Homo sapiens: one gene and its partner. The protein of the gene in region 1 purifies or fractionates together with the protein of each later gene. This does not show direct contact. Each region holds a gene or a part of one and is shown on either strand. Other genes may lie near its edges.

Region 1 (5,351 bases):
CCTGGTCTAGGTAGGAACAGAAAGAGCTGTCTTCAGACTTCTTCTCTGGGAGGTTGATGGGTTTTCCCCTTGGCTTTCGAAGAGGGAGGTCTGGCCTCAATAACTGGCAGTGCTGTCTTCCTGGGACTCGGGCTCCACCCCTTCACCATGGGCGTGCATGCTCACAGCTGGCACTCATTCCCTCACGGAAGCCTTCCCTGGGCTAAAGGCATCATCAAGAGGTAAGAAGTACAGCTTCACAGGTACCCAGAGCCTCTCAAATATAGGCATGATGGAATGAAACCTCCCCACCCCAGTCCCCAAAGTTGGTCATCAGAAGAGGGAGTGGCCGCCTGCCTCTAAACACTAAAAATCTAAGTTCCCTCTAGTCACCAACGCCCACCTGGCACGGAAAGGCCTTGTTTTGGTGCCTTTGACCCCATTTACACTCCAGCAACCTTTACCCCCACCTTTCTGGCCTTCCCCTGCACACCAGCCCTTCATTTCTGGGGGCTGTGGAGAGTCAGGAGACAGCTTGGTGGCCTCCTCCACTCCCTCCCAGACTTCAGGTCCCAGGAGATCCTCCAGTGACCTATTGTCCTGGCACCTGACCTTCTCCCTACCCCCTACCTTGCTTCCACAAGCTGGGAAGGGGACAGGAAATGCACAAATAATTATAGCCCAAGAGGGAAGGAGGGAGGGAGGGTTCCAGCCCACTGGCTCCAGGCAATAGCTACAGCCAGTGACCCGGAGAGCGGAGAGCCGGAGAGCCAGAGGGGTAGCGGAGGAGGACCCAGGCTCATGATAAGGAAGACCCTAGTAGAGAACAGCTCTACCAGGACTGACATGTGGACTCTCCTCTCAATTCTGATTGCAAAGAGGAGCCCCTCATCTTGGTAGGTCTCAGTTTTTTCAACTCAGCCTCACTGTAAATGGCAGTTGGGCAAGGTAGGGGGAAGGAGGGAGAGGGTGGTGGTTATTCCACTCAAAAGGACTTGCCAATAAGAAGTGAACTCTCGGCTAGGCGCAATGGCTCATGCTTGTAATCCCAGTGCTTTGGGAGGGCGAGGTGGGCAGATCACGAGGTCAAGCGATCAAGACCATCCTGGCCAATATGGTGAAACCCCATCTCTACTAAAAATACAAAAATTAGCTGGGCGTGGTGGCGCACACCTGTAGCCCCAGCTACTCAGGAAGCTGAGGCAGGAGAATCACTTGAACCTGGGAGGCAGAGGCTGTAGTGAGCCAAGATTGCTTCACTGCACTCCAGCCTGGTGACAGAGGAAGACTCTGGTTAAAAAAAAAAAAAAGAAAGAAAAGAAAAAAGAAATGAACTCTCCCGGCCAAGCGCAGTGGGTCACGCCTGTAATACCAGCACTTTGGGAGGCCAAGGCAGGTGGATTGCTTGGGCCTAGGAGTTCAAGACCTACCTAGGCAACATAGCGAAACCTGGGTGGACACACGCAGTGGAGACATAACTGAATCTCAAGCTAAGCTACTCTATTTAGTCTGGATGGTTGGGGATAGCTTCTCTGCTGATTTGGATAGTACAGCCATTATCTTGCCTCCCAAATCCCACCATTCTTTCCCCTCCCTGCTCTCTCCTTCATTCTTTCAGGTCCAGAGATGTTTCTCACTAGCAAAGGGCACTTTGGTGATCTCAGATTCTCCAAATGTCTCAGAATCCTTCCCTGAGCCCCCCAAAGGCAGGTACCAAGCAGTGTCCACATGATCACCTCACCCTAAGACCAAAACGCAGAATTAGCACAGTTCAGTAACTCACTAAAGGAGAATGTTGCCACGGTGATGCACCCAGAACTGTAACCAAGCTTACCTCACTCCAACCCATTGACCCGGCCCCCATACCTCCCACCTCCACCTGGAAAGAACACACAAGTACCTAACTCAATGCCGGCTCACTGAGGTGACAGATAAACAACAAATCCCTTTCCCCTTCCCCCCATGCCCAAACAGAGACATTTGGGCAGAACACACACACAGACACACACACGTTGCAGCTGTGTGAGCCACCCACGCACACTGCAGACAAGCTTCCTGACCCAGTGTCCACGGCAGCTGTACCACTGTACACCCCCAGAGCAAGCTGGGCCACCAGCAGCATGCCAAGCCATGATCTAGGCCCCCCTCTAGCTCTGGTACTGGCCCTGGCACCTGGGCAGGTGAAAGGTACTCACCCAGCGCAGCCCCTGGATGCAGCTCGGACGCTGGTGCTCCAGCAGCAGCTGGTAGGAGCAGCTTCGGGGCCGGTGCATCCTTCTCAACACCATGTTGAGTAGTGTCCCCTCCGGCACCACGTCAGGGAGGGCTCCCACCCGCGGTGCTCCCAGAGCTGGGCTATCCTCCACAGCCAGGCCCACCTGCCAGCAGCTCTCACCTGGCCAGCCCACCTGTGACACGGGGAGGAAAGTGGACAGCCATGGGACACGACTGGGGCGGCTGGGCCACAGTACAACTGCCCCAGGCAGAACTACTTCCTTAGAGTCCTCTGGACTGGTCAGGCGGAGGTGCTGCAACCCTGCCAGGAGCTGGGGGGAGGAACAGGAAGACCTTCACTGGGGCCTGCCGGTCTGGCGCACTTAGGGGTCTCCAGCTGGCTCTTGGAAAAGATCAGGCCCTTCTTAGTCCTCTTTGGAATTCTGTCCCATCTCACTGCCCATGCCCCTGCAGGGATCTCCACTACCTCCCAGTATGAAGCTATAGATTCACTAGGTCTCCCAGAAATGCAGCTTCGGCTTAAACCCTTCTCCTCTCCTCCTCAGCCCTGACTAACCCTCCCTCTCCCACCCAAACTCCCCACCGTGTCAGCTTCCTCTCCCGCCCTCTCCTGCTCCTCCTCAACCCTGACCCCACCTTACCCACCTTCATGTTTCTTTTCAAGCTCGCACAGCCGTGCAGGCTCTAGCAAAAGGCTGGGGGGTCCCCAGCGACCCCCATCAGCTTTGATAAGGGGATCCGGAGGGTGCCAGTGGGTAAGTCCAGGTACAGTGAACTGGGCCAGTGCCTAGCTGGACTGGCTGCCAGGGCAGCAGGATGCAGGGCTCGGTGGAGAGGCTCCTCTTGGGTGAGTAGAGGGGTGGGGGCGTGGTGGGGGGACGCCACCCAGCCACCGGCGACAGGGAGCCCCGAGCCTGCGCCTTCGTCTCAGACGAAGGAGCCAGCTGGCACCGGGCGCTGAAGCAAGGCTGCGCTGGCACCGGTCCGGGCGGGAGCTGTCACACCCCCTGCGCTGCCCGCCCCCTTCCCCTCCCCAGGACTGGCGGAGGGGGCGGGGTGGAGGCGCCCTGCCTTACGGTAGAGGAATGCGTAGGGGAAGGGGGCCGGCACTGGCAGGCTTTGGAGTCCGCACCCGGGGGTACCAGAGTGGACATCCGCCTGAGCCCAGAGTATCCCCAGGGGGCAGGAGCGGCCCCGAAGTGTGTGGAGGAGGCCGCAACGGCCGGGGTGTCAGGGATCCGGCGGTGAGTGGCTGCACTGGCCGCCACGTGGCCGGGAGGAGAAATGCAAACAAGGAAACCGGGGAGAGCGGGGAGGGGGTGAGTCACTGCGGCCTCACCCGGGAGGGAAATCCGGGCTGGGGCCGCTTCCCGGCTGGGGGTGTCTGCCTCCTGTTTCGGTTCAGGGTCTCCAGCCGCCCGGGGGAGGGAATAGGCGGCTTTCCCGCGGGGAATCCCGCTGCCTTGCCTCCCACAGTTCCGTTCCCAGACCCACGCCCCACTGCCCCCTGCCCCAGCACACACACACCGGGAGCAGTTGAGGAAACTGAGGCTGGAGAGGAAGGACTGCTCTCCAGAACGGGTAGGGGCCCTAAGAGGAGATTGGGGTTGTGGCAGAGCTTCCAGGGGAGCAGAAGGTGTTCGAGTACCACGCCCCCTACCGCGCGCTCCCTGGTGGCCGGGTAGGTTGAGGCGGAGACCGGGCATTCCAGCGCCCTGCTAGGCAGGCTTGCTACCGAGGCTCCACGCCTCCCTGGGCCTCAGTTTCCACCACTGTGCAAATGGCCCAGCGCGGGCCTCTTCGCCCCACTCCTGAGAGGGTGGAGAGACAGTGGCCGGGGACAGCGACCCGTAATTCAGGACGATAATGAGGGTTTGGAAGGAGGTGAACGCCCCACCCCCAGCTTTTTAGGACTTTTTGCCCCTTCTCTTCCCTTTTCCCTTTGCTGTTGAGCCAGCCCAGACTGGGAAGAAGTATCTCTAAAAAGCCTATACCCCAATTTTGGGATGCCAAGCCCGCATCCTCCACCATGATTATTTTCTTGAAAGTGAGGAGAAGACTGGGAAGAGGTAGCTCTAAGAAGCCTATACTCCCAATTTTGGGATGCCAAGCCCCCATCCTCCACCAATTATTATTTTCTTGAAAGTGGGGAGAGAAATTTTAATTGTGATTAAAATCCCATTTTTAATGTATACATGTATAAAAAATGTTTCCCAGAAGCTTACTAAAATGCAGGCTCCGTCCCCAGCAATTCATATTCAATCCTATTGGCATGAAATGGAAAATCTGTATTTGGAACAAACACCCCAGGTCATCTGCTGTGTCCACACATTAAGAAACGCTGGTGGAGTTTTAAATGCCTCTCCGGGGAAGGAGGAAAGCCTGAGAATGAATCTGACCTCAGACCCAAATCCATTCAACGGAGTTCTGGTAATTTGGAAGAAGGAAGAGCAACCTGGAAACTGACAGGAAAGGATGACAAGTTGGGAGTCACAGGTATGCATGGGGAAGAGTTAGGGGGATGGAGTCATGAGTTTCGGGTTGCTGGGGCCAGTGCCCTGGCCTAGAAGTTCTTGCAGGAAGGCTTCCTGAGACTGGCAGTTGGGTCACAAAGGGGTCCCCTATTTCCTATTCTTGCTGCCCTTACTCTGGGCAGGTGGAAGATGCTGGGGAGTGAGGCAGGACACTTGTATACATTTCAGCAGAGCTACAAAATCTAATCATGTGCGGGCACTCTTTCAAGTGCTTTCCATGTGTTTAATCCCTGCCACGATCCTGTGAGGTATGTACTTCTGTTATCCTCACGTCACAGATGGGGAAACTGAGGCTCAGGGATATTAAGGAAATTGCCAAAGTCACACAGCTAGTAAATGGTGGAGCTGGGGCATGAATCCAGGTTGTCTGTCTCCACGTACTCACCATGGTATACTGCGTATACTCTGTATGTATTCTATTCTTCTAATGTAGACTAGACTGCCTAGGAGAGTCTACTCAAAAAAGGAAAATTGAGGCCGGGTGCGATGGCTCACGCCTGTAATCCCAACACCTTGGGAGGCTGAGGTGGGGGTGAATCATGAGGTCAGGAGTTCAAGACTAGCCTGACCAACATGGTGAAACCCTGTCTCTACTAAAAATAC
Region 2 (4,809 bases), on another chromosome or scaffold:
AGGTCTTTGGGTTTGCTCCTGTGTGCAGTGCAACAGGAGACATCACTGATCCCTACACAGAGAAGAGACATGATACTCATGTGGTTAATGTCTCAGGAGGAGTAATCGGGAGCTGCGTGTTGTTGCAGCGGGTGGGAGTGGTGGTTAAGGCAGGCAGGAAGACCAAGTCTGGGGTTGCTGGAGAGTCCAGGGTCAAGATGGGGCTTAGCTCCGGCAGAGACGGAGGGCACACTGAGGTCGGGAGGGAGAGGGGGGCCTCCCGGGCACTGTGGAGCATTTCAGGCCTGTGGGATGCAAGGAGGAGCAAAGGAGACTGAGGAAGTGCCTCCATGGTTTTGAGCCTGGAGAACCGCAGGAATGTGCTTCCCTGATGGAGCAGGAGGGCTGGGAGGAAGTTGATTTGCTTGCATAACTTGATGCAATGAATTTTTATCTTGGTAAGTTGGGGCGGGGCGACAAATGGATGTCTTACAGGTGCTGGGAGAAGAGGCTGGAAGGTGTGGGTTTGGGAGAGAGCTGTGAGCCCAGGTCTGGCTGTTAGGCCTGACCTTCCACCTCTTCTCCCAAGCCCCTCCCCGGAAACTCCCCCGGGACCCTTCACCTCCCCCTCCTCCCTCTTACCTCCACCTCCTCCCTCTCACCTCCCCCTCCTCCCTCTCACCCAGGCCACAGGAATCACAGAAGAGCTCTACCAGAGAATCTATGCCTTTTGCACAAGGTTACTGACCCTGCCCACCCCCTACTGCACAGTCGCCTTGGACTGCGCGATAAGGCTGAAAACGGAGATGGCTGTCCCAGGTAAGAGTCACTGGGCATCTTTGTCTCCCACGCTGCACCTCCAACATTGCCCAGGGTCTTTCCTTTTTCTCCAGGATACCGGGGAGCTCAAAAGCCTCCACACCTTCTGTAGGAAGGTGGAGAATGGGAGTCAGAGACTTGGGGGCTGTTTGGCCAAAGTGGTCTGGTTTGCAGGGACACTGTACCAAAGGATGGTCATTGCCGAACAGAACTTGACGAATGAGCTGTATCCCTACCAGGAGAGGTGAGTGGCCCCAGAAAAATTGCTACCTTCAGCCTCCTAAAACTGTTGTGGCTTTAGTGACTGCTCCCTGGCAGGAGGACAAAAGAGGAGGCTGGATTAAGAAGAGCCCTAGCAGACCTCCCCAGCCATGATATTTGTCCAGCAGTGGGGTGCGTTTGCCATTCAAGGTTGGCGCCATATTGTTTTCTGGAGACCACTGAACACAGGATAGGTCTTTCTTCTCAGGTTGGATTGGAAGCTACCCTGCTCACATGCAGAAGGTGGACATGGCCTCGGGGCCACTCTGGGGCTCTGTCATTCCACCTCCATCCTGCCCTTGGCCATAATGCAGCATCATACCAGCCAGGCAGCCAGAGGAGACTCCAGAATAGCCATAGCGGAGGGGCTCAGGCGCAAGTGCACAATGAAGCCAGAGGGCTTCCATGGGGGACGCCAAGCCTCTTAGATAAGACTGAGGAAGTGTCCCCTGCTCGTGTTGGGGAGAGGGGTGATGAAGTTGGGAGCGGCACCTCCCTCTTCTGCAGGCACCTCCACTAACTTGGCCCTGAAAGGCACAGCTTGAGTTTGGGGTGTGAGGTGCTGAGTTCATGAAAGATGCAAGGAGGCCCAGGGCACCCATGGGAGAGGTGGGGAGACACAGTGGGTGAGGAGGAGGGAGTAGGGGAGGTTGGCTCTCTGGTGTGATAAGAGTGATGAAAGAAGGTGAGATTCACTCAGAGTTCAGAACTCCAGTTCTGGCAGGAAGGATTTAGGGTCCCTCCTAGAGGGTGACCTGGTCCCTGGGCCAGGATGCTGAGAGAGGGAGCAGGATTGAGGCTGGAACTTTCCTAAACATGGGACTAGGCCTGCTTTCCTCTGTGGACAGTGGATTAGAGCTGCCCCTCTAGAAGGGCTGTGCATGCTCTTATTTGCCACAGTCCTCACCACTCCCTATTGTCATCCCACCCAGAGACTTTTGAATCTGAGACTCCTCTTTTTAGCAGAATTAAATTACTTGGAGGTGCTGCACAGCTCTGAGGGTGCCCATCCGGTGGCCCCTCTCCCATTAGTTACTATCAATCCCACCTCTCCCCTCTGCTTCTGCCCTCAGAGTGTTCCTCTTCGTGGATCCTGAGCTGGTGTCTGCGTCTGTGTGCAGTGCTCTGCTACTGGAGATCGAGGCGGCCCAGGCGCAGCAGACACCAGAGACCTGCATGCGCCACGTGGTCTCCCACGCCCTGCAGGCGGCTCTGGGGGAGGCCTGTCACGCAGGCGCTCTGCACAGGAAGCTGCAGGTAATGGCCCTGCCTGCAGCCCCTTGTCAGTCCCAGCCCTCGTCCCTGCATGCCCATACCAGTCATTCACCCTGCTCTTCCTCCTTCTCCTGTTTCGCATCACCTTTTCCCCCAAATCAAAAATTAATACATTTTGGCTGGGCGCAGTGGCTCACACCTATAACCCCAGCACTTTGGGAGGCTGAGGCGGGTGTATCACCTGAGGTCAGGAGTTCAAGACCAGCCTGGCCAACATGGCGAAATCCAGTCTCTACTAAAGATACAAAAACTAACTGGCCGTGGTGGCGGGCACCTGTAATCCTAGCTACTCTGGAGGCTGAGGCAGGAGAATAGCTTGAACCCGGAAAGTGGAGGTTGCAGTGAGCCAAGATTGTGCCACTGCACTCCAGCCTGGGTGACAGAGAGAGACTCCATTTCCAAAAAAAAAACCAATAATAAGATATAAGATAATGCCAGTATTCCTAGCAGCAGGGTGAATGAGTGTCTCAGCCCCGAAAGCAGGAATCTGGGTCACCACAACAGTAGCTACTACATCATCTCACTCGGAGTCAAAGCCAAAGTGATTGCAATGACCTATAAGAGCCTGGTGTGGTGGTTCATGCCTATAATTGCAGGTACTTGAGAGGCCGAGGCAGGAGGATTGCTTAAGGCCAGGGGTTTGAGACCAGCCTGGGCAACATAGCAAGACCCCATTTCTACAAAAAGTAATAAAAAAAAAAAAATACCAGACGCAGTGACATGTGTTTGCAGTCCCAGCTACTCGGAAGACAAGAGGATCACTTGAGCCAAGTTCAAGGCTGCAGTGAGCTGTGACTGTACCACTGCACTCTAGCCTGGGTAACAGAGAGACACCCCATCTCTAAAAATAAAAATACAAGAACCTCATCTTGAGGGCCTTGACCTGTTCCCATCTCTCTTCATTTCCTCTCTGGCCTGTCTCCTAACTTTCCCTCTCATTTCCTCTGCTCCAGCTAAACAAGCCTCCTCATTTGTCTCCCAACATGCACATGCCTAACATACTTGCACCCCAGGGCCTTTGCGCTGGCTACTCCCTATGCTTGGAACGTTCTCTTAGATACCTGCACGACTCACTCTTTTTTTTTTTTTTTTTTTTTTGAGACGAAGTCTTGCTCTGTTGCCCAGGCTGGAGTGCAGTGGCGTGATCTCGGCTCACTGCAAGCTCCGCCTCCTGGGTTCACGCCATTCTCCTGCCTCAGCCTCTCTGAGTAGCTGGGACTACAGGCGCCGGCCACCACACCCAGCTAATTTTTTCTATTTTTAGTAGAGACGGGGTTTCACCGTGGTCTCCATCTCCTGACCTCGTGATCCACCTACCCCGGCCTTCCAAAGTGCTGAGATTACAAGCGTGAGCCACCGCGCTGGGCTGCATGGCTCACTCTTTCACTTCAAGTCTTTACCTAAAAGTCACTTTCGGCCAAGCGCGGTGGTTCACGCCTGTAATCCCAACACTTTGGGAGGCCAAGGCAGGCAGATCATGAGGTCAGGAGATCGAGACCGTCCTGGCCAACATGGTGAAACCCCGTCTCTACTAAAAATACAAAAATTGGCTGGATGTGGTGGTGCGCACCTGTAGTCCCAGATACTCGGGAGGCTGAGGCAGGAGAATCGCTTGAACCCAGGAGGCAGAGGTTGCAATGAGCCAAAGTCACACCACTGCACTCCAGCCTGGGTGACAGAGCAAGACTCCGTCTCAAAAAAAAAAAAAAAAAAGTCACTTTCTCAGGGGGGGCTTCCCAGATCACACAATCTCTTTTGTTTGCTGCTGTATCCCAGCCCCTAGAACAACACCTGGTGCAGTGAGCTATTCTAAGTGCTGGAGATGCAGCTATGAATGAAACAGACAAAATTCCCTGTGAATTCCTGGAATTCACAATCTAGTGGGGGCTAGAACATTGATCCAAGTGCTGGGTGACGCTTTCAGGAAGTGGGCGTCAGTGGCTATCTCTGCCTCTCTGGGTAACAGACATTGCAGACCAGTAGTCTCCCCATAATAGCGTGTGAGGGGCAGAGGGGAACCCCCACTTGCAGGGCAGGCATAGGGCCCTGGATGTGGGATCCAGAAGCCTTCGGGGGAAGCTCCTGCCGGGCCCCCAGGGGCAGCGGAGAGGTGTCACCTTGGGCTGCCAGGGCCCTGCGGACTTGGCTTAGGAGCTGGGGTGCGTGGGCGCTGGGCCAAGACCCAGGCTCTGACGCCCCTCCCCAACAGGCCAGCCCTCGCCGCACCCTGGAGCACTATTTCCACGCCGTGGTGGCCGCCTTGGAGCAGATGGCCAGCGAGGCCAGCCCGAGCCGGGAGGGACACGTAGAGAGGCTGGAGGAGATTTACTGCTCGCTGCTGGGTCCCGCGGCGGGGCGCTGCGGTGGTAAGCGACTGGCAGATGGGGGGCCTTGGCAAGAGTCCCGCGGGGGCAGCTCACTGCACAGCAGGGGGCGCCAGAGAGCAGCGCTGGACCTGCCTCTGTCTGGGTGCCT

The links. Proteins that work in one complex are often made in the same cells at the same time.
Region 2: the proteins of RAPGEF3 (region 1) and PIK3R6 purify together in Homo sapiens (pull-down; one study listed by IntAct). This does not show direct contact.

What each region holds. Positions count from the first base shown.
Region 1 is NC_000012.12:47,755,692-47,761,042, forward strand, and holds the start of RAPGEF3 (rap guanine nucleotide exchange factor 3), read right to left. Parts: upstream 3,190-5,351; 5' UTR 3,062-3,189; coding exon of another isoform or gene 3,031-3,061; 5' UTR 2,866-3,030; coding exon 2,860-2,865; intron 2,771-2,859; exon of another isoform or gene 2,388-2,770; coding exon 2,175-2,387; intron 222-2,174; coding exon of another isoform or gene 158-221; exon of another isoform or gene 11-157; intron 1-10. Other genes in the region: SLC48A1 (heme transporter HRG1), read left to right, coding at 158-221, 4,525-4,710. UniProt on the Homo sapiens protein: Guanine nucleotide exchange factor (GEF) for RAP1A and RAP2A small GTPases that is activated by binding cAMP.
Region 2 is NC_000017.11:8,832,780-8,837,588, reverse strand, and holds part of PIK3R6 (phosphoinositide 3-kinase regulatory subunit 6), read left to right. Parts: intron 1-665; coding exon 666-798; intron 799-872; exon of another isoform or gene 873-972; coding exon 973-1,042; intron 1,043-2,132; coding exon 2,133-2,316; intron 2,317-4,543; coding exon 4,544-4,700; intron 4,701-4,809. UniProt on the Homo sapiens protein: Regulatory subunit of the PI3K gamma complex. Acts as an adapter to drive activation of PIK3CG by beta-gamma G protein dimers.